Linked DNA regions of Homo sapiens. The protein of the gene in region 1 interacts with the protein of each later gene in a pairwise test. Each region holds a gene or a part of one and is shown in the gene's direction. Other genes may lie near its edges. The genes, in order: SLC7A14, FAM20B, CBLIF and ERMP1.

What was found.
Region 2: the proteins of SLC7A14 (region 1) and FAM20B interact in binary tests that used the Homo sapiens proteins (3 or more experiments, as listed by UniProt).
Region 3: the proteins of SLC7A14 (region 1) and CBLIF interact in binary tests that used the Homo sapiens proteins (3 or more experiments, as listed by UniProt).
Region 4: the proteins of SLC7A14 (region 1) and ERMP1 interact in binary tests that used the Homo sapiens proteins (3 or more experiments, as listed by UniProt).

Annotation. Positions count from the first base shown.
Region 1 is NC_000003.12:170,459,014-170,464,075, reverse strand, and holds the end of SLC7A14 (solute carrier family 7 member 14), read left to right. Parts: 3' UTR 1-4,528; downstream 4,529-5,062. UniProt on the Homo sapiens protein: Imports 4-aminobutanoate (GABA) into lysosomes. May act as a GABA sensor that regulates mTORC2-dependent INS signaling and gluconeogenesis. The transport mechanism and substrate selectivity remain to be elucidated.
Region 2 is NC_000001.11:179,028,869-179,035,902, forward strand, and holds part of FAM20B (glycosaminoglycan xylosylkinase), read left to right. Parts: intron 1-6,369; exon of another isoform or gene 6,370-6,810; intron 6,811-7,034. UniProt on the Homo sapiens protein: Responsible for the 2-O-phosphorylation of xylose in the glycosaminoglycan-protein linkage region of proteoglycans thereby regulating the amount of mature GAG chains.
Region 3 is NC_000011.10:59,835,466-59,842,499, reverse strand, and holds part of CBLIF (cobalamin binding intrinsic factor precursor), read left to right. Parts: coding exon 1-57; intron 58-1,175; coding exon 1,176-1,357; intron 1,358-5,148; coding exon 5,149-5,326; intron 5,327-6,490; coding exon 6,491-6,692; intron 6,693-7,034. UniProt on the Homo sapiens protein: Promotes absorption of the essential vitamin cobalamin (Cbl) in the ileum. After interaction with CUBN, the CBLIF-cobalamin complex is internalized via receptor-mediated endocytosis.
Region 4 is NC_000009.12:5,795,105-5,802,138, reverse strand, and holds part of ERMP1 (endoplasmic reticulum metallopeptidase 1), read left to right. Parts: intron 1-810; coding exon 811-963; intron 964-3,130; coding exon 3,131-3,333; intron 3,334-4,206; coding exon 4,207-4,322; intron 4,323-7,034. UniProt on the Homo sapiens protein: Within the ovary, required for the organization of somatic cells and oocytes into discrete follicular structures.

The DNA of each region.
Region 1 (5,062 bases):
AGACGTATATTTAGTACATAAATGCAGAACCCTGACATGCTTTACTAAATTTGCCAATGAGTGACACCATGAAAAATAATAGAATTAGTGGTAATGACAAGAAGAAGTACTTCTGCATGATAAGAACAAATCTTTCCCCATGCAGGTAGAGGTTTGAAATAGCATAGATCATTAAAATCCACAGGTAAGCTTCAAACCTAGATTTTGCTAGCTACATGTGCCTGGCATATAGTGTGTATTCAAGAAATACCTGATGATTGACAGAATGAATGAATTGGAGGAAAATGAAATATTTATTCAACAATTACTTGTGGAGTGCCTATTATGTACTATGGCAGATATTGATATCGTAAGTCAGATAAAAATCCAGCTCTTAAGAAGTAGAGGAAATAGAGCTTGGTGTGGTGGCATGTGCCTATGATCCCAGATAGTTGAGAGACTGAGGGAGGAGGATCACTTGAGCCCAGGAGTTCAAGGCTGCAGTGAGCTATGATCACACCACTGTACTCCAGCCTGGGTAACAGAAGAATACCCTGTCTCTTAAAAAGGAAAATCAAATAGGGGAAATGGGATATATAAATAAAGAACAATAGTGAATGTGTCAGGTGAGATGACGGACTTGTAATGTGCTGTGGGGGGTCAAATATGAAGAAGGCCTTCTTCCTCTGGAAAGGTCATAAAGAATGTCACACTTGTGTTGGAACTTGTGAAGTGGGTAGAATTTTATCAAGTAGAAATGAGAGAAAGGCATGCCAAGCAAAGGATCGGCATGAATAAGGTCTACTAGTTTGTGGTCCTCTGGCTAAGAATTTGTGCTGTGCCTCCATTAAGAGAAAGCAAGGAGCTAGTTTGCCTGGAGCACATGATTTATGCATGACTTATACATGCAACAATAAGAAATAATGCTAGGAAGGCAGGTGAGGGATCACTCACAGAGAGACTTGAATGTCACACTGAGCTGACTGGCTTTCCTCGGGTGAGAGAGTGGGAAATAATTGGGGAACTGACGAAAGTGTGAATCCAGGAAGGCTGAACTTTAAGAAAGCTGAGACGGTGGCTTCCTTACCTATGCAAGGAACTAACAAGCCACATATACACTCCAAATTGATTTAACAAATTAAAGAGAAAAATAGCTGTACTTTGAGTCCTGTGTCTGCATTCATCATTAACCTAAGAAAATACAGCCATTTAATACGTGGACAAGCAACACAATTTAACAGCCACTTTAAAGTTTTCAACAATAGGTTTCAACAACTAAACCTAACAACTTTTTATATCTATCTAATCTAAACAGTAAAATCTCAGCTCCAGGTTTTACTGAGCTTGAGTGCTACTTTTTTTTTTTTAGACAGAGTCTCATTCTGTCACCCAGGCTGGAGTGCAGTGGCATGATCTTGGCTCACTGCAACCTTCACCTCCCGGGTTCAAGCTATTCTCCTGCCTCAGCCTCCCAAGCAGCTGGGATTATAGGCGTGTGCCAGTTCTACTTCTTAGTAACAAACTAGTAGCTAATCAAATGCCTACATAATGGTCATGATAAATCTGTTTAAATAAATGGCGGGCGGAAGGGAGTTGTTGAATTTAACAATCCATCCTTCTTCAGAATCTATAGGTCAGCCAGAATATAAATCTAGTAATTATTGAAAAACAAAACACAAACTCCTTCAAAGAAATCTCTCTCCTCTATTCTGCTGAAAAGGGTTGGTAAACCTGACATCCTTTCTTTTATTGGAAGACAAATCCAACATTTGTTAGACATCCAACATTTGTTGGAAGTCTACCTTACAAGAAACCACCTCTTATCTGCAACATAAACAGAAGCTACATCAGGTTGAAAATCCACATAGAAGACTGGAGAAAATTGCCGTCCCCTTTCGCACTAGGTTTTACCAGGGGCCCAAGATGTCAGAGGAAAGTCCGCGGAGGGCCAAACACAGGTTTACCTAATTATGAATCTCAGATTAGAATGTCTTATTGTGTGGAAAAGTCAGAACTCAGGAAATGTGTCTGAAGCCAGAGCGGGGGTCTGCTTACGGAGTCTACGCAGCGGGTAGGGGTCCACTATTGGAGTATAAACCTCAGGTCAGTGAGTAGTGCAGAGGTGTCCCTAACTTCCAATGGAGGGAAAGAGAGGAGAGCAAAGGAAACACATCCAGAAGTCGCCACGAGGGCTGTGTGCCAGCGCTCCATTTTCATGCTGTTTGGAACAAGACGTGTCAAGGAAGATGTTTCTATCCAAAGTCTTCATGGAGCCTCTGCTTCCCCTGTACCTGTGTAGCTCCCTGAAACTGAGGACCCACGTGTCTGCAAAGACCTCTGGAGATCCTAAGAGAGAGAGGCACCAGCAGGTAACCAGTGGTGGCCTGGCCACGAAAGAGTATTTGAAATTCAACAGTGAGCAAGTGCAGAAACAGCATCCCAAACCGCAGGCCCCACCACACGCAGGAACCAGAAAGCTGAAGTTTCACCAAGGAGTTTACTTAGTATTTCTCGCTGGGAATGGGGATGGGTAGCAAAAAGCCCCTTTCATGTACATAATGGTTGGTCCTATGTCCTACTTTTATTTTCTCTAAGAGTTTTAGAAGAAAGGCTGTTTTAATTTTTTTTTCTCCTTAAGAGCAACTTCCTTTTTAAAATGCTTTCCTCTTCTTGTCCTGCTTGAGTAATGCAGGCATCATTCTGAAATCATTCTGAAACAGCTAGGCAGTCGCCTTTTGCCAAAATTACTTCTCTAAGAAAATAGAGTGTTCTTTTTTTTAGGACTTAGAACCCACAAGGGGTGAGTGGAAGTTTTGTAGCCCATCAAAGGTGAATATGTGTTCTGCAGTATCAACTAAAACAGTGTACAAAATCATTAAACTGGGCCGGGCGCAGTGGCTCATGCCTGTAATCCCAGCACTTTGGGAGGCCGAGGCGGGTGGATCACCTGAGGCCAGGAGTTCAAGACCAGCCTGACCAACATGGAGAAACCCCATCTCTACTAAAAATACAAAATTAGCCAGGTGTGGTGTTGCATGCCTGTAATCCCAGCTATTAGGGAGGCTGAGGCAGGAGAATCGCTTGAACCCGGGAGGCAGAGGTTGCAGTGAGTCGAGATCACACCATTGCACTCCAGCCTGGGCAATAAGAGCAAAACTCCGTCTCAAAAATAATAATAATAATAATTTAACTGTGTTCTGCACACACAGAATTACAAAATCCCTATAGGACTTTCACAGATAGCTTTGGGCTTAAGGTCTTCGGACAACAGGTAGTTCTAATTTCTTACTCTTTGGGACATTTAGTACATGTTGGTACACATAAGGAAAGAAAATGGCTTATATTAGAGCTAGGAAACAGGGGCAGCCTGGATTTTTATGGTAGGAACTCACTCTGTGCTTTTTTTTTTTTCTGTTAAGTTTTCTTGACACTGACTTCGGTAACATTGGCTAAAGGGAATTGTGAGTCATGTGAATTTCACCTGCAGTGCAGACTTTAAAGGACTGTGTTCATTCTGATTTGGGGATGAAGAGAATGTTCCATGCACATCTATTGATTGGTCTTGGCAGTTGCTGATACGCTTGTCTCATTCACACTCCCAAAGGCGAGGATTTACCCTAGAAATCATAAACCCCCACTTTCCAAAGCAAAGATGCTGTTAATGTTATGATGGTGCATAAATACCTCAACTGTCTGGGCTGAGAGAGGGGGCTGCAGGTTTTTAAGAGAGCAGCTATAGTCCTCATTCCATGTAGTCACATCATCTGATGACAGGACTCCACATTCTAGCTTTTCTCACTGTGGAAAAGAAACGTTACTGTTTAATTAATATCCAAAGTTATAAATACAGCTTGTAAATTTTACTAACTTGTTTCTTTTTCGTTTCGTCCTTGAGAAGTACAACTTGCATTTACAGATGGTAATTCCTAGTGTTGTTCTCTGCTATCTTTTTTTGGTATGAAATTGCTGTATTTGTTAAAGTTTGTTCGTTTTGTGGTTTTTAATTCCCATTGGTGTGCTGTACAATGTAGTGTATCATGAAGAAAGAAATAATATGCAGATGTATTATGAAATGTGTTTTATTTTCAAATGTGTGGTGTTGACAATATATTGATTTATCAAGATACTAAGGGAAAATTCTAAATTTAACAAAATGTGTATATTTTAATAAATGCATAAAGCTTTATTGTGTGCCTTTAAATTTAAAAATGGGTTTATAAAGAAAGTCAGAAACAAAAGTGTCTTACTATAAAATATCCATAGTAATGTAAAGCTTTTACACGAGACTACCAAAAAAAAAGAAAGAAAAGAAAAAGGAGCCTTCCCATATTTTGTTAACCTTAACCAGTATCTGAAGTCTGTTACTTTTTTTCCATTCTTAAATGGAGATGAATAAGTGAATTTCGCCTTAAGTGTTTCAATTGTCCTTTGTAGAAAAGCCAGATAAATGAGTTCACTTTGAATTGCATTATTGTGGAAAATTCATTTTCAGAATAAAACATTTTAAAAAGTACAGCTAATCGACTAATAAAATTTAAATTTGAAGAAAGTCAGTGCCATCCTACCCCTTTAAATTTACTTTACTTCCATGAGGAGAACATGAAAGTTCCACTTTAGTGGGCTCTCAGAAGAACCTGACCTGGCGCTGTCTCCCTCTCACGTTCTTCTAACAAGGGTACAGGGCTCTCTCAGGGACCCTGCTCACTACACTGCCTCATTAATTACCCCTCTCCCGGTGCAGTCCTACTCAAGCTGCAGCCCCCCACACCCTCTGCACCATCTTATGTCTAATACAGAACATTCAGTTCATTGCCCCCATTTATTTTAAAGAACAATTAGAAGAACAGTATCTGCCTACAGTCCCAAACCAAATTACCATAGCATTGATGGTGGCTTAATTGATCTTACTTGTTGATGGCGCAGGTGGTGATACCTGGAGAAAAAGGTAGAGGGTGTAGCAGGGCCACATATTTTCCATATCACATGGGATGCAAAGAAACTGCCATATCTTTATTTCCTGCAACTCCCTGATCTCCCTTGCAATGGTCCACCTGCCTCGATAGCAGGGGAAGAAAAACAATCC
Region 2 (7,034 bases), on another chromosome or scaffold:
CTAAATTATTTAGTTCCTCTTTTTGTCAAAAGAAAAAAAAAGCGTAGAAAATGTGTTTCGGATTACTGTTCAAAATATTCTGTAGAGGTGTGTTATTTGCTTCTGTGATTATATGGTGTTCTAAACCACCTGGAGCCTGGCAGTAGCCTGTGCAGGTTCCAGTCAAGTGCAGCTTCACAACCTTGCTCCTACAGTCTGTTCTGGCTAGGCTAATTGGGCAGTTGGATTGATAGCCAGTGTTTTTGCATTAATAGAAGAACTTAGAGCTCTTGGCAATGGCCATGTCAATAGCATTGACCTGACTGCCCTTGTCCCTTATTTTGACGGTGGAAGAGGGGAGTTATCCCTTTTTAAGAGTACTTCTCCAGCAGTTCCTTCTTCTACACCTACATATATCTTCCTGTTTTCCTTCAGCTGTCTCTGTAACCCCAAGTACTAATGAATTCTTTAACATAGGCCTGGGCTGCAGAACAGAAGCTTACTTTGCTATTGAAACCAGCTTCTGACTAACTTACAATGTCAGCATGACTGCTCGAGCTGCCTAGAAGAGAAAATAATGCAAAGATCTCACTTCTGATTTGGTCTTTCTTACCAAAAACAAAAGAAGAAATGCCTAGCTTGGGATGTAAAGAATCTACATGACAGATGGGTGCGTCTGTCATCCCAGTGTGAGATAAGAGAAAAATGTAAGCTGATGCAGAAGAGACCTTGAGCTTTGGTGTGTGTTTAAGGTCTGTACTTTCTGGCAAGATAACCCCTTTAGAGAAGAGGGTGCTAACTTGGGCACGTTATAAAGGCAGGTCAAGGAATATGAAATTATGAATGTGTAAAGAGGACAGAACCAAGTACAGAGGGAGGCAGTGAAGTCTATCATTCCATGCTCTCAAATGTTAACTTTCTGCTTTATATACATAGCAATGCCTCATTTACCTAATGTTGGGGAGTAAGGTATTATATGTGAAAATTTTATTTTAGCTATACCTTTTGTGGAAAAATTTTTACAATATATGCTTTGGTTATTATTACTAGCATACTGGCAGTAGTTGAGTGAGGCTATGAGATGATCGAAAAATGTAGTTTGTTGTCCACTGTGCTTTTTGAATTATTGAATCTACTTGAGTCGATTCAGTAGTCAGTCTTTGTCTTCTTTCAGTGGTGGAAAGCTGCTCTTTTGCTGCTGTTAGTATCCTTGCTGCCCTCTTTTAAATTTGCAGCTTCTTATCTGTGGAGTAGGAGCTTCCTGACATTGAATGTAAAACAGCTAAATTGGCTTAGTTATGTTCTACCTGCTCTTCTCCAAGTTTTAGGGTATGAACTTTGTAACCACTTATTTTTGTTGCCCAGGGACGTTTTTGTTTGTTTGTTTCTTATCGTTGGTGTAGATAGTGAACGTGTGCTCTGTATAGGTGCATTTATGTTCCTGTAGTTTTCTGTAAAAAAAAAAACAAAATAATATGGAAGTACTTACTCGTGTGGGTTCTTGTTTCAGAAAGCACTGCCAATAATACTTGAAGATCTGATTTCAGCCCTGTCTTGTATCATCCTTGGGCAGTGTGTTAGACAACCTCCTTTCTTCCTTTTAGCATTTCCAAATTGTCTTTACTCTTAATCCCAGCCGATACTAGGAACCAGGTTGGCAATAGCAGTGGCCTTGAAAGGTGGAAGCAGGATATACAGAAGGTGGCAACTTTAAATTGAGTGTATATAATTGGTATACATATTCGCTATTTCTGCATCTTTTATATACTGTATACTTGAATTCATTGTAGGACTTATTTCCCCCTGTCTCTGAAAGAGGCAGTCTTTAAACCAGAGAGTTGCCAGTTTAGAAGAAATTCTTATAACCCTAAAGGTCTTTCTCCTTTGCCCTTCTCTCCTTTTATTCCACAAACACTTATCAGATGCCTCTTACAGGCCCTGCACAGTGCTAAGTTACTTGGAAGTACAAAGCGTGAGTAAAATCTATCCCATCCTCAAAAAACACAATATATTAGAAGAGACAGATGTGCCAAAAAAAAAAAAAAATGTGTGTGTGTGTGTTTGTGTGTGTGTGAGTTCATAGTATAACAGAGGGATCATGCCTGGAGCCACCTAGCCATAATTTCAGCACAGATCTGTTTGAGGTTCTCCTGCTTCTGAGAGTGATCTCCTGTGTGGGCTGTCAGCTTGACGTACCATAGAACATAAGGCTAAAAATGCGAGGTCTATTGTTGTATAAAGTTTATGTGGTTTTCCAAGAACTGTAGTGAATTGAACACTAAAGATGGAAAGCATATGAAAAGCTGAAGGAAAATGTTATAATATTTGTAATGCCGTATTTCAACACTATACAGGAATTACCTTCTATAATCTAGCCTTAAATGGTGGTTCTGTACTGACAGTTGTGCTGTGAAATACCTGGAACTTGGGAAGTGTCATTATACCTGGCTTATTTAAAGGAAAATGCAAATTGTTACTCATTTCCACGTAGTGTCAAGATTACTGCGTGTGTTGGTTTTTTAGAACAGAACTCGCTAGCAGTATGAGCTAAAGTTTTTTTCTTTTTCATTTTTCAAGGAAGAGGGTTGCCCTAAATCAAGGTTTAAATGGGACAGGTTGCAGAGATTGATTTTTTTTCAGTTCACTTATTGAAATTATTCAGTTATTGCCTATTTCATTTTTACTTTCACATCCAGCAAGAAAGACTACCTTAATGCTTCATTAATGCCTGGTAATGGTTTTAGTTGCCTTCCTTCAGAGGGAACTTGTTAGAGAATTTCATATAAGTGATTCTGAGTTTACAGATGTAAATAAATGTTTAAATGGAAGTGAAAACAGTAAGGAAAACCTGACACTTGGACCAATTTGGATTATGTAAGAATTAGATTTTCTACACCTGTACTCTTAAGTTACTCTTAAGGCTTATCTTAAGGGCTTTAGCACATGAAAAGCTGTCATCTTTAAAACACAGAACTAATTTTCCAAACTGAAAACAGTTGTGAAAGGCATTCTATTTTAGCCTTTTTTTGTGAAGTGGGATAAGTTCATGCTTCCCATCTGTTTCAGTTACATTGAGTGTGGTAGAATTGAACTTTGTAGAGAAGGGAAACAGGTTGGCCAAATTAGTGACAGCCTCCCAGTCTTCTGCTTTGCATGACACTCACTCTGAAGATATCTATTTGCCTAGTCTTATCTACCTCTCAAATTTAGGCAAGAATTTGGCTCAGAAATACAAGACTACTAATTACTACTAAACTCTTAGTAATGCAATGTGTGGATTTGGCCCCTCACTATGTAACTGAGAAGACAACATTATGGTATATTGATTCCAATGAGGGTTTTCTTTGTCATTTTTCTCCTCTCTGGAGGTCATCTGGGTTTTTGATATGGTGATAATGACTAGCAAGTGATTACTGTGGGTCATCCAGGCACTAATCTTAGCACAACACATGTAGAGGTCTCATTCTTTTTTTTTTTTTTTTTTTTTTTTTTGAGACAGGATCTTGCTCTGTCACCCAGGCTGGAATGCAGTGGCATGATCTTGATTCACTGCAGCCTCAGCCTCCCGAGTAGCTGGCTCATTCATTTTTAACAACCCTGTGAGTTAGGTAATAGTATTCTTGTTTCATTTTTTTATATGCAGAAACTGAGACCCAGAGAGGTCAGAAGTTAAATATCTTTCCCAAGACCCACATTAGGTGGTAAAGGAAGCATCCAGGCCTAGGCATTCTGAATCCAGAGGACATGCTTTTAACCCCTCTGCTACAGAAAGCTTATATTTAAAATAAGAAGGTGAATTAAGAAGCTATTTCTTAAGTGGATAATTAGCACAGAAAAGAAGAAAAAATATCTATAGATACTGATTAATGCTATTACTTAGTATTAGTTTTTATTTTTAGTTGAAGACCCTCATGTGAAGATGAAAGGAAGAATAGCATGCTGTTGTGGCAGGCAGCAAAGCAGGAGTGGGCTGGTTTTCCCAGGGTACTCAGCATTTACTGAGATAATAAACATGTAATGCTGTTTAATATTGGAGGTTTTGACTTTCTGGACATCTTGACTGTCACACAATACTAAAAGACTTCTGAATGCTCTTAATTTTACTTATCACTGCCACTAACCATCAGTAGAGACATTTATTTCTAGGGAACGGGGTGTAAACTCATAACAGTTAATAATAATATGCACAGTGCCCTACTGTCACTGCTAGTGAAAAATCAAAAGGGCAGTATACCAGACAGCCCACGGTAAAAGCGTGTGTGTGTCTAACTTTTTTTGCACTAAAAGATGTGATTTTTGCTATTTATGTTTTGGCTGAAGTACAAAAGTTAGGCTTTATAAACCGGACATGTGTCAGTGTGTGAATGTGTGAGGTTAGCCTTGATTGCTCTGCATAAGTCTAAGTAGGGCTCTGAAGTATGCAAGTGGATTTTAGTAAATGATCCAGTTGAGAATCTATTTCTTCTTGTGGTACCTTTAAGAGACTTTGTTAATTATGTATCTTTCTAAATATATACAATGAAAACAGAAAAATATAAATGACATGTAACTTTTATAATGAGTGTATTGCTCCTAGAAGCCATTAATAATAATTTACAAATATGACCTAACAATTTATCAAACCAATTTTTATTTGCACTTAATGGTTAATTTAGTGATTACTCCCTCCCTGAGATAATTGTTTTTAGTCACGTAATTTATTTCCCTATGTCTTCTCCCCTGGTATTTTTACTATCCCCAAAAGGAGTTGATAGGAGCAGAACAGATGTGAGAATGTTGGGTTTTACAAACTACCTCAAAATAATAGTGGGTTAAGACAATGATTTGTTATTTCTTTCTTTCTTTTTCTTTTTCTTTTTTTCTTTTGAGACAGTCTTGCTCTGTCACCAGGCTGGAGTGTAGTGGCGTGATGTCGGCTCACTGCAACCTCCGCCTCCTGGGTTCAAGCGATTCTCCTGCCTCAGCCTCTCAAGTAGCTGGGACTACAGGCATGTGCCACCATGCCCAGCTAATTTTTTGTATTTTAGTAGAGATGGGGTTTCACCATGTTGGCCAGGCTGGTCTCAAACTCCCTACCTTGGGTGATCCGCCCATCTCACCTCCCAAAGTGCTGGGATTACAGGTGTGAGCCACTGCGCCCAGCCTGTTATTTCTTATAATTATATAGGTCATCTGGTCTCACGTGTTCCTGCTCAAATGGTATAGGCTGGGGTCACAACAGTGACTACATTCTGCCAGACCACAACTGGGACTGGAATGTCCTTGAAAGTGTCATCTTCATGTCTGGCACTTCACCTGGGGTGACCAGGATAGCCAAGGGTTGGCTGGACCTCTCTCCATATAGATCACTTGGCATTTGGTAGTCTTAGCTTGAGCTTCTTTACATGGTAGCTAGATCCCGTGAAAGTGGAAGCTGCCAGGTCTCTTAAGACCAGGGCCCAGAACTGGCACACAGTCATTTCCACAACATTCTATTGTCAAAACAAGTTACAAAGCCAGCCCAGATTCAAGGGGAGGAAAAACAGACTCCACCTCTTTCTCTCTCTCTCTCTCTCTTTTTTTTTAATAATGGAGACAGGGTCTCACTGTGTTACCCAGGCTGGTCTCGAATTCCTGGGCTCAGGCAGTCCTTCTGCCTCAGCCTCCCAAAGTGTTAGGATTACAGGTGTAAACCAGCATGTTTGGCCCTGACTCCACCTCTTGATAGGATAAATTGTTAGTGTCTGTCTTTGCAGACAGTCTACAAAAAATTCAAATTCAAGTCTTACCTCCTATACTCACCAAACCTTCAGAGTTTTAGTCAAACCAATAATTACCAAAGTATTTTGTTAAAGGATCCTTGTAGTTCCTACTCAGGATCAAGGGCAAAGAGATTGTGTGCATAAATATAATTCTATACCAGTTAAGAAATCCTACCCCTTTGCCTCAGATCTCTTTTGTTGTTAGTCCTCTGCATGAAGCATTCTTACTAAGCATTTCCTTTGTGGTGCTTTGCATTTACAAGGCATGTTACATTCTACTTAAGTCATAAGAACCTGATTTGACCATTAAATTAGAAACACAAGAAGTGAAACTTATGTTTACTTTTACCATAACTTTCACTTTTAGTTGCTATGAGCAGAGGTTGGTATTTATTTCTTCTCTATGACCTCAGAGGTAGTATTGTGAGCTTGTCACTTAATCAGAGGGTGATTCAAGGGGACACTTCTAATAAGGCTTGGAATCTCATTGGTGGCTTGTAGGACCCTCTAGTAAGGTAGTAAGCGTTAAGGCCAGGTGTTCTCATGTTCCTTGGCAGCCACATACATTGAGATTTATCACATGATCTGTAGACCCCCACACCAACATGCTTTTCTGTAAATGTTCCTCCACCATCAGCCAGATTTTTTTTTAAGTACAATTTCCATTGTATTTTTCTCCAGAGAATGGTCTGTCTTCAGTCTTTAAGGACTCAGCTCCTTACACGGGCTTTGGTGGGGGTCGTGGGGCAGCACCCACAGGTCTAAATCGGGGTAGGGGTGTTCGGTCCTCGTGGGCTTCATGAGATTGATTCCTGACTACTTTGCTGTGAATTGCACAATTCACACAGTAATGTAGCTTCACAAACAGCTTGGGAAGCACATAGGCATTGAAGACGCTGCTTCAGAAATGTCCCTGACTGCTGTGGCCTCCACTATATTTCGAATGATGAATTTCTTAATGGCCTTGTCCTTAGGCACGCATCAGGCACAGTTCATGCAGCGAATGGCTGCACGTAACTGTGGCCCTTTTTGACATGACTTTTGTTCCTTCTTTTCTTTGTCATCTTGGAGGCATGGACCGGAGAGGAGATTCTTGAAAGAAGACTTTACATTAAGACCTCACTTTTTTTCTGTGGAATCTATATCTCTTCTCCCAAAACAACTTCATAGTCTTACGTTTGCCCTTATACAATATTTATCAAATGAGTAGGATGAGTGTGTTTGTGTGTGTGTGTGTGTAGAATGAAAGTGAATTAGCCGGCTGGGCGTGGTGGCTCACACCTGTAATCACAGCACATTGGGGGGCTGAGGTGG
Region 3 (7,034 bases), on another chromosome or scaffold:
CGATAGCCGTCCGCTTTGCCAAGACCCTGCTGGCCAACTCCTCTCCCTTCAATGTAGGTGAGTAGGTCACCACTACCCCGAGCTGGGAACATCAGAGGCATCGTGAACTGAATGGTGGAGCTGGCAGGGAAGTGACAAAGGAGAGCGTCCCATGGAGGAGGAGCTAAGGATGTGAACGTGCCTGTGGATGGGAGATATTTACCAGATGTTTGTTGGGCAGGTGAATTGAGGAGTAAGTGAAGGAAGAGGGGGTAGTATTATGTAGAAACAAGGACAATTGATAATACTTGATATGTCTGGCAGCTACAGAATCTCCGCTGGGAACAATAGTAATGCCATTCAAGTCAGAAGTTCTTCCCAAATTAAATATGAATGTCTTGCTTCAGTTCTCCTCTGCATCCTCTCTTTAATCACTACTGATGCTCCCACACTCCATTCTTTTCGATGCTTCTCCTCATTACATCCAAATATCCTCTCTCCATTAAACAGCTACTCTCGGAACCCTAACTCGTGATATTTCCCTTCATGGCAACTCGGGGACCACCTTGCGTCTTTGTTCTGCAAGCATATGGCTGCTTGTGAATAGAAGCTTTTCCCTCTACAACATCATGTCCTCCTTCTGTCCCCTTCTATGGATAATGATCCTTCTCTGTGGGGGCCACTGTCACAGCCCGCATTCATGATCACCTTTTCTCCTCTGCCAACTCTCTAAGCAATAGTATTATCTCAGGTTTTCACTCCCTTATGCATGCCCCATCAGCAACCTCTCTTGTTTCAGTTTCTGTCAGACAAACAGGTGAACCACTGCTCTAGGATCCTCCCTGGGGGTTAAGAACAGACTGGTCTCCCTTTCACATCTGGGACCTCACACATTTCTGGGGCATCTCTGCCTCCAAAAATTTGGACTTATTTACTTCTGGTTGTCAGTAACACTAGCACCCTTAACGAAGTTATGCAACTTTCAAATGGAGATTTGGCCCTGCTGCTTACTTAATTTTTCTGAGCCTCCATTTTTTGTCTCTTAAATGGAGATGATTACAGGTACTGTTTCACAGGTTGTTCTGAGGAGCAAATAAAATCATGGAGCCAGAATATAATAAGCACACAATAAATGTTAGCTGTTCATATTGCTGTGATGGTGACTATGGTGATCTTATACCCTCTGTCATTCACAGACACAGGAGCAATGGCAACCTTGGCTCTGACCTGTATGTACAACAAGATCCCTGTAGGTTCAGAGGAAGGTTACAGATCCCTGTTTGGTCAGGTACTAAAGGATATTGTGGAGAAAATCAGCATGAAGATCAAAGATAATGGCATCATTGGAGACATCTACAGTACTGGCCTCGCCATGCAGGTAAACACGTGCTGGATGCTCTTGGTTGGGTTCCTGCCAATAAGCCTGGATTGCAGAATCAAGAGGCCAGGCTTCTACTAACATCTCTGTGAAAGTCCAGCTAGTATGACCTGAGATATATTCTTTGTGGTGCCTGGGCCTCAGTTTCTCTACTGGTAAAATGCAGGTAAGTGTTAATTCCTCCCTACCTCCTATGTAAAGTGTGAAAACAAATCTATATGAACTTGTTTCTCTTTCTTGGGAAAAAAAATGAAACAAATAAATCAAGAAATATATTAATTTATTATTAATAATGATCAGTTTATTTGTAATAGTTACAGACTATTACAATTTTGATGTATAAATAATAAGAATATTAAAGCAGGCCCTCTAAAAATATACAATTTTCTGATGCAATCTTACCAGCCAAGTGTTCTTTTTCAGTGTTTTACCTTGATCTAAAAATAGCAAGTTTATACTCAAAATGATTAAGGAAAATAACCTAAAGTTGACCCAGCCTCACAAAAACCCATAGTAAATGGTAAAGCAGATCTATCTGTCAGCCAAGTCCATATTCAATTCTGTGCTTTCACAGCATGCATTCCCAGGCTTGGATTCTGTAAGATGTGTTTGGTATTCATAGTTCCAAATCCAACAACCCACCCTACCCTAGTTGATTAGGGCAGCAGCCTCCATAGAAGACAGATGCACCAATGGTGGTGGGCAGAAATAACCAACTAGAATCAGAAACTAGCAACCATCTGTGGCTGAATCCTCTAATCCCAACTAAGAAGTTTGAGCTCCAGTGTCTCAAAATGTCCTATGGGGATTAATAGGACCAGGGACTCTTCAACTCAGAAAGCCCACTAAAGGGAGAATCATGGAATGGTGATGCCAGCCCTAAACCTAACATAGTTGCGGACTATTAGAAAGAAATTGTCTCCTGGGGAAAACAATGGAGACTAGTATTGAGATTTCATACATTAAAAATTAGAAAAGGATATAAGCAGCCTAAGAATTGGTTCATGTTAAACATAAGAGCAAAAAAAAAAAAATTTCCACTTCAATGGACCACATATAGAAGTGACTAATAAAAATAGAGTTCATTTCTATGTCACAGTCAAGGAGACTTTGTCATAGAACAAAACCCTGTTTTTTCCATGGCTGAATTTTACAAGAACATTCCCAGTGCTCTGGTCTAGAAGCTTTTTGGAAAGAAAAAGGCAGTCTGGAAGAGATATAAAAGATGGTTTGGGGATTTTTTTTTTTTATGTGTGACTCTCTAAAAATAACCTTGCTTCAATTTATCACCAGACAGTGAAGTGTTTACTTTTGCTAACTTGGTTTGTGAATTCTGTTTGGATTTTATCACCTGCCAAGTACACTTTGATAAGCTGTACCTGGGAATTAGAGCTTTTCCTATCAAAAGGCAGGACCCTGTCTACATCCAAATACCACAGGCCATGTGGATTTCTTGTCAGAATACATAATCTCTCCCTACCCTTTTTACTGCCTCTATCTGGAACTTATTTAGGCATCCTGAAATCTGGAATCAATAGGTGTCTAATATATAATATTTTCCTAATCTAAAATATTCTGATATAGAAAATCAAAGGGCTCTGGAACTATCACAATTTAGGTTTGACTCCCACACCTGCCACCATCTCAGACAAATATTGAATTTCCCCAGATTTTATTTTCCCCATAATAATAAGGTTGCAATTAGGTTAAATAAAATGTGGTATGCAAAAAAATGCATGCATAATGTAATGCTTAACAATTGTTCAAGATCTGTCTCAGCAGAGCAGTGATGCTAGTAAAGTTCCTTTTCAGCCTTTGTTCACCTTCTTCCAAGATGTCAGTACACTTCCAGTGGCCCAGGCCACACTCTTCCCTACCCAAAGACGCTCATGAGGCATTTCCTCTGTTCCAGAACTTCTCATCTTTCTTCCATGAATATCCTATTGCTTTCAAGTTTCCTCTGATAGGCGCTTATCTTGAAAAGGGATCTGATAGGCCAGGCGTGATGGCTCACACCTGTAATCCCAGCACTTTGGGAGGACGAGGCGGGCAGATCACTTGGGGTCAGGAGTTCAAGACCAGCCTGGCCAATATGGTGAAACCCCATCTCTACTAAAAATACAAAAATTAGCCTGGTGTGCTGGCAGGCACCTATAATCCCAGCTGCTCAGGAGGCTGAGGCAGGAGAATCACTTGAACCCGGGAGACGGAGGTTGCAGTGAGCCAAGATTGCACCAATGCACTCCAGCCTGGGCATCACAGCGAGACTCCATCTCAAAAAAAAAAAAAAAAAAGAAAGAAAGAAAAGAAAAAGAGAACTGATAAACTTCTTGATGGAAAGTTATTAATGACGTCTAACCACTTAATGTGTTATCCTCTCTAGAGTGTTGGCATTGGTGATGTGTAATCCCAATGAATATACCTTGCTTAGTGAAATTTGGGAGGTGCATATGACAAGTGGACAAGATATTGTTGCTGAGGAGCACCCACCTGATGGCCCTTAAAGCAACTGCCTTGTAAAGTGGCCTCTGTCCAGAGCCATGCTTCATAGATGCTGAGGTTCAGTGATGGTTGTCCCTGTCACAACTGCCCAGTTGTGCATACTGACCCTAGCTGAGACAGCCGTTTCTGACTCCTCTCTCTCTCTTCTCCCATTTCCTATTCCAAGCTTCAGGTGAACCAGTCATTAACAATCTCAGCCTATTAACATGCTCTGGTGGCCATAATCGCACTGTAAAGGAAGGGAGGTGGTAATGACAGCTTCCACATCACACATCACACATCACGAAATGCTTTTATACATTAGCCCCTTGGAACCGCAAATGACTCCCCCAACAATAGACAGAAGTTATTATTTCTATTTTATTCATGCGATAGATAACGCAGCAAAATAGGTGAATGGCTGAATGGCTTGGTGTATTACTCAAGACTCATTTTGCAAGTAACAGAAACCCAAATCCTTTTAGCTCAAGAAAAAAATGAGGATTTACTATTCACATACACTGGGAAGTCTAGGGCTGAATTAGGTGGTTTCAGGAATAACCAGAATAAAGGGCTCAAATCATGATATCAGGAGCCACTCTTTTTTCATCGTCCAGCCCTGATTTTCCTCATTCTTTCCTGCTGCAGGGCTTCTTCAAAGTGGCTGAGAAAGATGGTCACTAGCAGCTTACCGTTTATTTGCATGGTCCCAGTTGAATAACCTTAGCAGGAAAAAAAAATCTTTGGGTGTCCCAATGTCTGTATGTCGGGGAATGATTCTGATTAGTACATGTGTCCACCAATCACTGTCATCAAGGGGATGGTGACCACCATCAGCCCAGTCCAGGTCATGAGTCCATCCTGGGCCAGGGTTGTGGAGCCTCTGAGAGTCCTGACACAAGCACAAAGTGAGGGAAAAGTCCATCAAAGAGGGCACATGGCAATATGAAACAAGGGGTCTACTCCGTTTATGTGGCTAGACTGTCCTAGGCTAAAGCTCCCTCTGGAGCCCAGCTCTCACCCTCACTCTACATTCAAGAGTCGTTCGTAAATATGACTGCCTAATAGTGTTCCCTGGATCTGATCATTGCACAGTTCTGTGTCTGCTGTCTGACAGACACTGTGCTAAGTGGTGGGGACATAGCATTGAAGACAAATGTTTTCCAAACCTTACATAGCATTGGCTTTGCATTCTGGGTGACTACGTGATCACCATGATTAGTGATCAAGTTTATCTCTTAAGACATGTAAGAGCCAACTCTCAGCTATGCCTAATTACTCTTTCTCTCTCTTTCTGTCTTCCTTCCCAGGCTCTCTCTGTAACACCTGAGCCATCTAAAAAGGAATGGAACTGCAAGAAGACTACGGATATGATACTCAATGAGATTAAGCAGGGGAAATTCCACAACCCCATGTCCATTGCTCAAATCCTCCCTTCCCTGAAAGGCAAGACATACCTAGATGTGCCCCAGGTCACTTGTAGTCCTGGTAAGACATCCACCTCTCCTTATGTCATAAAGCAGCAACTTATGCCAGAAATGACATGTGGATCAATGTTAAGTGGCATATAGGCTTGTAATGTCCATTATTCCCATGTGGGCAGAGTACATCTGACTCCCAGTCCTTAAGAGTGTGTGCTAGCACACAGACATACCTTCCTGCACTCAGAACTCAGCCCCATATCTACTTCATTCAGCATATATTTACCTAGCTCCTACTATGTGCAAAGCATTTTGTGGGATACTAGAGGTAGAAGAAGCTCCATGGTCCCAGCTATCAAACAACATATAGCTTCATTTATTCATTTCACAAATGTACCATCAAACACTATGCATATCTTATCATATCTGCCTTTCACAAAGTCAGAAGACAGATGTGTAAACAAAAACTACAATATTTGGGACAATCGAGTAAGTATTAAATAGAAGTTAAAGCCACACACAGTGCAAATGCCAAAAAGAAAAATAGTGACCAGTTGTTGATTTTGTTTGGGAGGCTTCAGAGAAGAACAGAATTCATATTTAAATCGAGCCTTAACGATCTAAATATGAAAGCTCGATGCACGCAATATATCAATGAGATGGAGTGGAAACCTAGCATGCCACTTTTTAATTAAAAATATCTTTATTTTATCCAATTATGCATATAATTGAAAGACACTAAAAATTCAAACATTACAGAAATATGCATTTGGAAAGTGGAGGTCTTGCATAAAAACTTATTACTCCAGAGATTACTAGTGTTTGGTATGGATTCCTCAAACTCTTTTTTTTTAATAAAATGCTAACACAAAGCATCATTCCTCTTGCATTGCATGAACTTCCTAAGACAAGAAGCAATTAATAAGTTTCTCGTCTATCTCAATGCAGAATGTGGAGACCAAAATCAAGCAAACTGATCCCAATCCTACCAAAAACTACCACATTCACTCAACCCCTTAGGCTGCTTCCCAGTGATGTCCCAACCTTAACAAGGTGGCCATGGAGTTTTTGCCGGAATTCTATGCTAGTTGTCCAAGTACTTTGTTAAATGGTATGAAACTCACTACTTTCTCAAAATGTCTTCTGGGGTAAGTTGCCAATAACAGAGATTTTGCACCTATGATACAAACCCCATAATCTTTGACAAATGTGGCCTCTTTGCCCTTCACAGATCATGAGGTACAACCAACTCTACCCAGCAACCCTGGCCCTGGCCCCACCTCTGCATCTAACATCACTGTCATATACACCATAAATAACCAGCTGAGGGGGGTTGAGCTGCTCTTCAACGAGACCATCAATGTTAGTGTGAAAAGTGGGTCAGTGTTACTTGTTGTCCTAGAGGAAGCACAGCGCAAAAATCCTATGTTCAAGTGAGTATTACAAATGTCATTCATCATTCTCTCAAGGCCTGATCTGAATTCCCATTTTTTATCCATCCTGTTTTCCTAATTTTTTTCCTTTTGATAACAGATTTTTATTTAATAGCGCTTGAGCAGCTTTCAATCTAATAAATAGGTAAGGCTCTCATGAAAACTTAAATCATATAAGTCAACATATGATGAAGTTTTAAAAACAAAAATTCAGAGGAGATTCGAAAGTCCATTGCAGAGTAGAACAGGCAAAAGAGACTTTGTAGCTTTGAAACACAAAGAATAGGTACTATTTAGGAAGATGTGGGAAGAGGTAAGTCCAGAAAAAGAAATGGCCAGAAC
Region 4 (7,034 bases), on another chromosome or scaffold:
TCCATCTTTCTCTCAGTATTCACAATATTTAAAATGTGGCTTCTTAGAACAATTTCAGATTTCACATAAAAGTTTCCCCAAATGGCTTCTTCAGACCCTGTAAGGGATCTGTGGACATACTCTGTGAGTCGTGTGTGTCCTTTACAGTTTTTAGTTCAGCGATTTCATTACGATTGAAAATATTTAGGATTTTCTAGATGCCAACCTTGAGACTGAGTCATTTACATTTACTGCCTAGATTTATTGTTTTGATTGTGTTGGCATTGGTTAATTTGTCACTTAGAGGGATAATATTACTTTGTAATGCAGTTTTTCCTCTTATGCAGGTCCACTGGCAGAGTCTTGAAGGTACATCTCTATGCCAGTTGAGATGAATTTAGTATTTTGACATATTTTAAAGCATTATGAGTGGAATTTGAGTTTTGTCCAAACAGATCTGCCTAAGCTTAAAGCTTATCTCTGGTTATTTAATGAATAATCCATTACATCTACATTTCTGTTCTTTTCGCACATTAAGGACAGCGACAGTCCTGAGTTTCCTTTTTCCCTCTTGGTTTTTGGCTGCATGCCAAAAAGGTGGCACCATCATGGCAGATTGGAGGCATCTGTCATTTTCTAGGTTCTCACCTGCAATGGAAATCTCCTAGAGTTAGTGCTTTGTTTACTAGATGTTAGAGTATGCTAGCACCTGCTGATAAATTTTCTTCAGGGGCTGTTAGGTAATACTGTTAAAAATAAAGTTAGTTAAAAACACCTTTCCACCACTAGAATGAATTTGTAATATTTCTGTGTTTGTGGTTTGTGTTTCAGATTAACTTCATCTACCTTGCCAAGAGCACAAAAAAAACCATGCTAACTTTAACTTTGGTATGTGCAATTACATTCCTCCTTGTTTGCAGTGGAACATTTTTTCCATATAGCTCCAATCCTGCTAATCCGAAGCCAAAGAGAGTGTTTCTTCAGGTGAGCAGTTTTGCATGAGGTATTTGAGATCTGGAAAGGAAGCCCTGTGTGTTTTGAGCTTCAGTAGTGAATAGCAAGCGCAGCTGACTTTTCTGCTGTTGACCTATTTAGTCATACTCACCTTTTTTGTGTGTAAGGCAGTGAGGAGAAGACTGACTGTCAAGAGGCATTCTTATCAGCTAGACATATATCTCCCAGGAGACTGAATTGGAAATGTTTGCTTGTTTTTATTACTATTCAAATTATAAAACTGCATCTATTTGGAAAAACAGGAGCAAATATTTATTATGGAATAATGAGTTTTTAGAAATATAGATTGTAAAAATGTATACAGGCTGAGTAAAATCTAAACTGTCAACTGGCAAAATAAAATTGATGTTTAGAAGTGCTAGTAAAATTAATCTTAAGTAACATTCAAAGTGATATGTGATAGTGAAACTATAACTTAGAAAGGGTTTAATAAAGTGAGTTTTAGGACTTACTTTCTTTTCTCTTTTTTTAAAATGGAGTCTTGGTCTGTTGCCCAGGCTGGAGTGCAGTGGAACGATCTTGGCTCACTGCAACCTCTGCCCCCTCGGTTCAAGTGATTCTCCTGCCTCAGACTCCCAAGTAGCTGGTATTACAGGCGCTCGCCACCACGCCTGGCTAATTTTTGTATTTTTAGTGGAGACAGGGTTTCACTACGTTGGCCAGGCTGTTCTTGAATTCCTGACCTCAGGTGATCCACCCACCTCGGCCTCCCAAAGTGCTTGGGATTACAGGTGTGAGCCACCACACCTGGCCAGTTTGAGGACTTATTTTAGATCTCAACTTTTTCTTCAAATTTTTTAGACCTGGTACTATAAAGCAGTAAGCCTCAATTCTAGTCATCTCTGTTAGAGATGGCTAAATTGTTAGTTTTTCTAAATTGTTTTTAAAAGTTCTCATACTACACAAATTATCTTATGCCTTATACCCATCCCTTTCTCATGTTTGTGAACACATACTAACATATTGTATATTTTGCATAATTCTTATTTGTATTTTATACTCTGTAAGTGAAAGATCCTGCTTCAAGATAACATATACCCTTAAGGGCAAGAGTCACATCTAACCTAATCTAGCCAAACAGAAATGCCAGAGGAATTATACCTAGATAATTATTCAAGGACTTAAAAAATTAAAAACACTTAGGAGGTTTTGAAAAGGGGCCAAATAACAATTCCTTGTTATAGTCCTGAAGGACACTGTGATAAATTTTATGTGAGATTTTACAATTTGTAAAACCTTTAGTGAAGAACGGATTTTTTTTTAGGAGGTTCAGTGTGTTTTTCATGATGTATTAAGTTTTATAATTATGTCAGTAATACTTAGGAAAAGCAGGATTTTTATTTTTAAAAAGTCATTTTCTGATTTGTTTGGGGGTTCTCTTCCACTGTGCCAGAAGTTGGCAAACTTTTCCTGTAAAGGACAAGATAATATTTTGGGCTTTGTCAGCAATACAGTCTGTTGCAGTGAAACAGAGCGAAAGCAGCAACAGAGTATACCCAAACAAATGAGTGTGGCCATGTTCAAATAATGGTTCGTATATAAAAACAGTCAGTGGACAGTTTGCCCTGTTGGCTGCAGTTTGCCGGCTCCTGCCCTATGCAGTGTTTTTTTTTGTTTGTTTTTTTCCTGATTGGTATTCTTCAGGCTGGTTTCTGCCGTGAATAAAGTTATTTCAAATGGAGCACGGTGCCTTTTCATAGAATTCTGTTAGGCACAAGGCTGTCATCTAGTGGTGAGCTGCAATTCCCACTTTTCTCTGCACATGAATTAGCTTCATAAAACACTAATAGGGAAATGAGTGTGTATGTATATATGTGCTTAGGATGTATTTGTTTTAAATCCTTATCTAAAAGCAGCTCTAACATTAACGTCTTTTAAGTCTGAAATAGTAAGTTTCAAAAACATTTTATAGGAATCCTAAATATATTTGGAAGATACAATAAAACAATAATCTATATATCTATTTTCCAGTTTAAAATAAAGAACGCTAGCAGTACCTTAGAAACTCTCAGTGTCTTATTCACTTGCTCCATATCCACATCATTTCTTGGTATTGTCATACTCCATTTTTGTAATCTGGGGTGGGAATGTGGGTGTACTAGTTGAAACAGTTTTTTCACTAGTCTTTTTTTTTCAGCATATGACTAGAACATTCCATGACTTGGAAGGAAATGCAGTTAAACGGGACTCTGGAATATGGATCAATGGGTTTGATTATACTGGAATTTCTCACATAACCCCTCACATTCCTGAGATCAATGATAGTATCCGAGCTCACTGTGAGGAGAATGCACCTCTTTGTGGTTTTCCTTGGTATCTTCCAGTGCACTTTCTGATCAGGTTGGTTCATTATTTTTCTGCTTAAGGTTAGTTTGTTCTCAAGTCTTGTCACCATATCAGTACTCTTATCATTTAAACTGCCATCCTTTAATATACAAGTTCAGTGGTGTTTGTACTATTTTTTCTATCATTATGAAACTTTTTTTTTTTTTTTAGTGGAATAAAGCACTCAGAAGAGTAGTTTTGTTTTTTCAAATTTTAAAAATCTTTTCTCTAGAAACCTGAGTGGTTAGAAAAGGTGGCCCTTCTAACTAATATAATAGCCAATAAGCATCTATCTCAAAAATTGTGGCCGGGCACGGTGGCTCATGCCTGTAATCCCAGCACTTTGGGAGGCCGAGGCGGGTGGATCACCTGAGGTCGGGAGTTCGAGACCAGCCTGACAAACCTGGAGAAACCGTGTCTCTACTAAAAATATAAAATTAGCCGGGCATGGTGGTGCATGCCTGTAATCCCAGGTACTCGGGAGGCTGAGGCAGGGGAATTGCTTGAACCCGGGAGGTGGAGGTTGCGGTGAGCCGATATCGCGCCATTTCACTCCAGCCTGGGCAACAACAGCAAAACTCTGTCTCTCAAAGAAAAAAAAAAATTGTTTTCTCTGGGAAGATTTTATAGCTTGGCAGTGAAGGACTGGATGAGAAGAAATAGGATGGGTGGTGGAATCAAGATCACCTAGGTTACTCCTTTGTTCTTAACATTGGGAAGGTTTTATTACAAAATAACCTAAATTTGTTGGAGTTGGCATTGCTTATCATGTCTGTCAGTTTATTTTCATACCCAAAAATGTGTTCATATATGCTGAACAGTTCTGTGAGTTACAGATAGCCATCAAATAATAAAGCACCCTAAAACTGAAGCTTCCTTTCTAAATAGGAAAAACTGGTATCTTCCTGCCCCAGAAGTTTCTCCAAGAAATCCTCCTCATTTCCGACTCATATCCAAAGAACAGACACCTTGGGATTCTATAAAATTGACTTTTGAAGCAACAGGTAAGTCATATAATAGTTTTTTCTCCCCTCCTTTATTTCTTAAACTTGTTAATAAGTGGCATGTATGTTTTTCCCTCAGATATATCACAGGAACCAGCAACTTAGGAAGAGCCTGTGATGTTTCTAAAATCAATTGAAGCTGGTTATGACTTCTTTTTTTTTTTTTTTTGAGATGGAGTCTCGCTCTGTCGCCCAGGCTAGAGTGCAGTGGTACGATCTCGGCTCACTGCAACCTCCGCCTCCTGGGTTCAAGTGATTCTCCTGCCTCAGCCTCCTGAGTATTTGGGATTACAGGTGTGTGCCACCATGCCTGGCTAATTTTTGTATTTTTAGTAGAGACAGGGTTTCACCATGTTGGTCAGGCTGGTCTTGAACTCCTGACCTCATGGTCTGCCTGCCTCGGCCTCCCAAAGTGCTGGGATTACAGGTATGAGCCACCACGCCCGGCCAAAGCTGGTTATGACTTCTTAACAAAAATTTAATAGGCCAGGCATGGTGGCTTATGCTTGCTACTCAGGAGGCTGAGGTAGGAGGATTGCTTGAGCCCAGGAGTTCAAGACCAGCCAGGGCAACATAGTGACATCCCGTCTCTACAAAATTAAAAAAAAAAAAATTAGCTGGGCATGTTGGTGCATGCCTGTAGTCTTAGCTACTTGAGAACTTGAGAGGCTGAGCTGGGAGAATCACTTGAGCCCAGGAGGTCAAGGCTGATAGCACCACTGCATTCCAACCTGGGTGACAGAGCAAGACCCTGTCTCAAAAATAAAAATTATTTTTATTTTTTGGAGCAATGTTAAGTTTACAGAAAAATTAAGTAGAAATTATAGAGTTCTCATATCCTGCCCCCCGATTTTCCTCTATTAATGTCTTGCATTAGTATGGTGCATTTGTTAAAACTGATGCACCAGTTTTAACACTGATATATTATTATTAATCGAAGCCTGTTGTTCCCACTCGGGTTCATTCTTCGTGTTGTGTAGTTCTATGGGTATTGAAAAATGTGTGATGCCATGTATCTACCATTACAGTATCATACAGAATAGATTTACCATCTAGAAATGCCCTGTGCTTCACCTATTTATCTCTCTTTTCTTCCCACTCTCCTTAGCAACCATTGGTCTTTTTATTATCTCTGTAGCTTTGCCTTTTCCAGGTATCATATAGCTGGAAGCACAGAGTATGTAGCCTTTTTCGACTGACTTCTTTCACTTAGAAGTATGCATTTAAGGGATCCTCCATATCTTTTTGTGACTTGATAGGCCATTTCTTTTTATTGCTGAATAGTCCGTTGTGTAGATGTACAGCAGTTATCCATATTTGAATAAGGCTGCTATAAAGATTCCTGGGCAGGTTTTTGAACTCATTTGGGTAAATGCTTAGGAGTGTGATTGCTGGATATTATATATGGTAAGCCTATGTTTAGCTTTGTAAGAAACTGCCAAACTGTTCTTTCCATTGACTGATTTCTCTGTTCTTTTGCCCATACCACAACTGTCATGATCACTGTAATTATATAGTTAAGTTTTGAAGTTGGGTAGTATCAGTCTTCCAACTCTTCTTCTCCAGAATTGTGTTTTGTCTTTTGCCTTTCCATGTAAACTTTAGAATCAGTTTGTCAATATTCACAAAATAACTTGTTGGAGTTCTGATTGGGATTGTATTGAGTCTGTAGATCAAGGTGGGAAGAAATGATATTTTAACAATAATGGCTTTTCCTATCCGTGTTGGAATATCCCTCCATTTATTTTTATCTTGTTTGATTTCTTTCATCAGTTCTGTAGTTTTCCTTATAGAATCCTTATATATATTTTGTTAGATTTATTTTTAAGTAGTTATTTTTGGGGGTGCTAATGTATTAATAAATGGTATTGTTCATTGATGGTCTACAGGAAAGCAACTGAGTTTCAGATTATTACCCTCATATCCTGCAGCCTTGCTATAATCACTTATTAGATCTAGGAGATTTGTTTTTGTTTTTGTTTTTGTTTTTGTTTGGTTTATTCTTTAAGAAGATTTTCTTTTCTTTTTCTTTTTCTTTTTTGAGACAGTCTCACTCTGTCACCTAGGCTGGAGTGCAGTGGTACGATCTCGGCTCACGGCAACCTCTGCCTCCTGGGTTCAAGTGATTCTCCCGCCTCAGCCTCCCAAGTAGCTGGGAATACAGGCACCCGCCACCACACCTGGCTAATTTTTGTAATTTTAGTAGAGACAGGGTTTCACCACGTTGGCCAGGCTGGTCTCAAACTCCTGACCTTGTGATCCGCCTGCCTCAGCCTCTCAAAGTGCTGGGATTACAGGCGTGAGCCACCGCGCCCAGCCTATTCTTTTAAGATTCTATGAATAGACAATCTTATCATCTGCAGACAGTTTTATTTCCTCCTTCCTAATATCTATAATTTTTATTTCCACTTCTTGACTTGTTACATTATCTGGGACTTCTAGTTTGATTTTGACAAGGCGTTGTGAGAGGGGACATCTTTGCCTTGTTCCTGATCTAGGCAAGCTTCTGGTTTCTTACCACTGAGTATGTTGTTAGCTATACGTTTTTTGGTAGATGTTTTTTATGAGACTGAGGAAGTTCCCTCTATTCCTAGCTTACTGAGAGTTTTTATCATGAATAGGTCTTGGATTTTGTCAGTTGCTTTTCCTGCATATATTGATATGGGCATGTGATTTTTCTTTCTTAGCCTTTTGATGTAATAGATGACATTA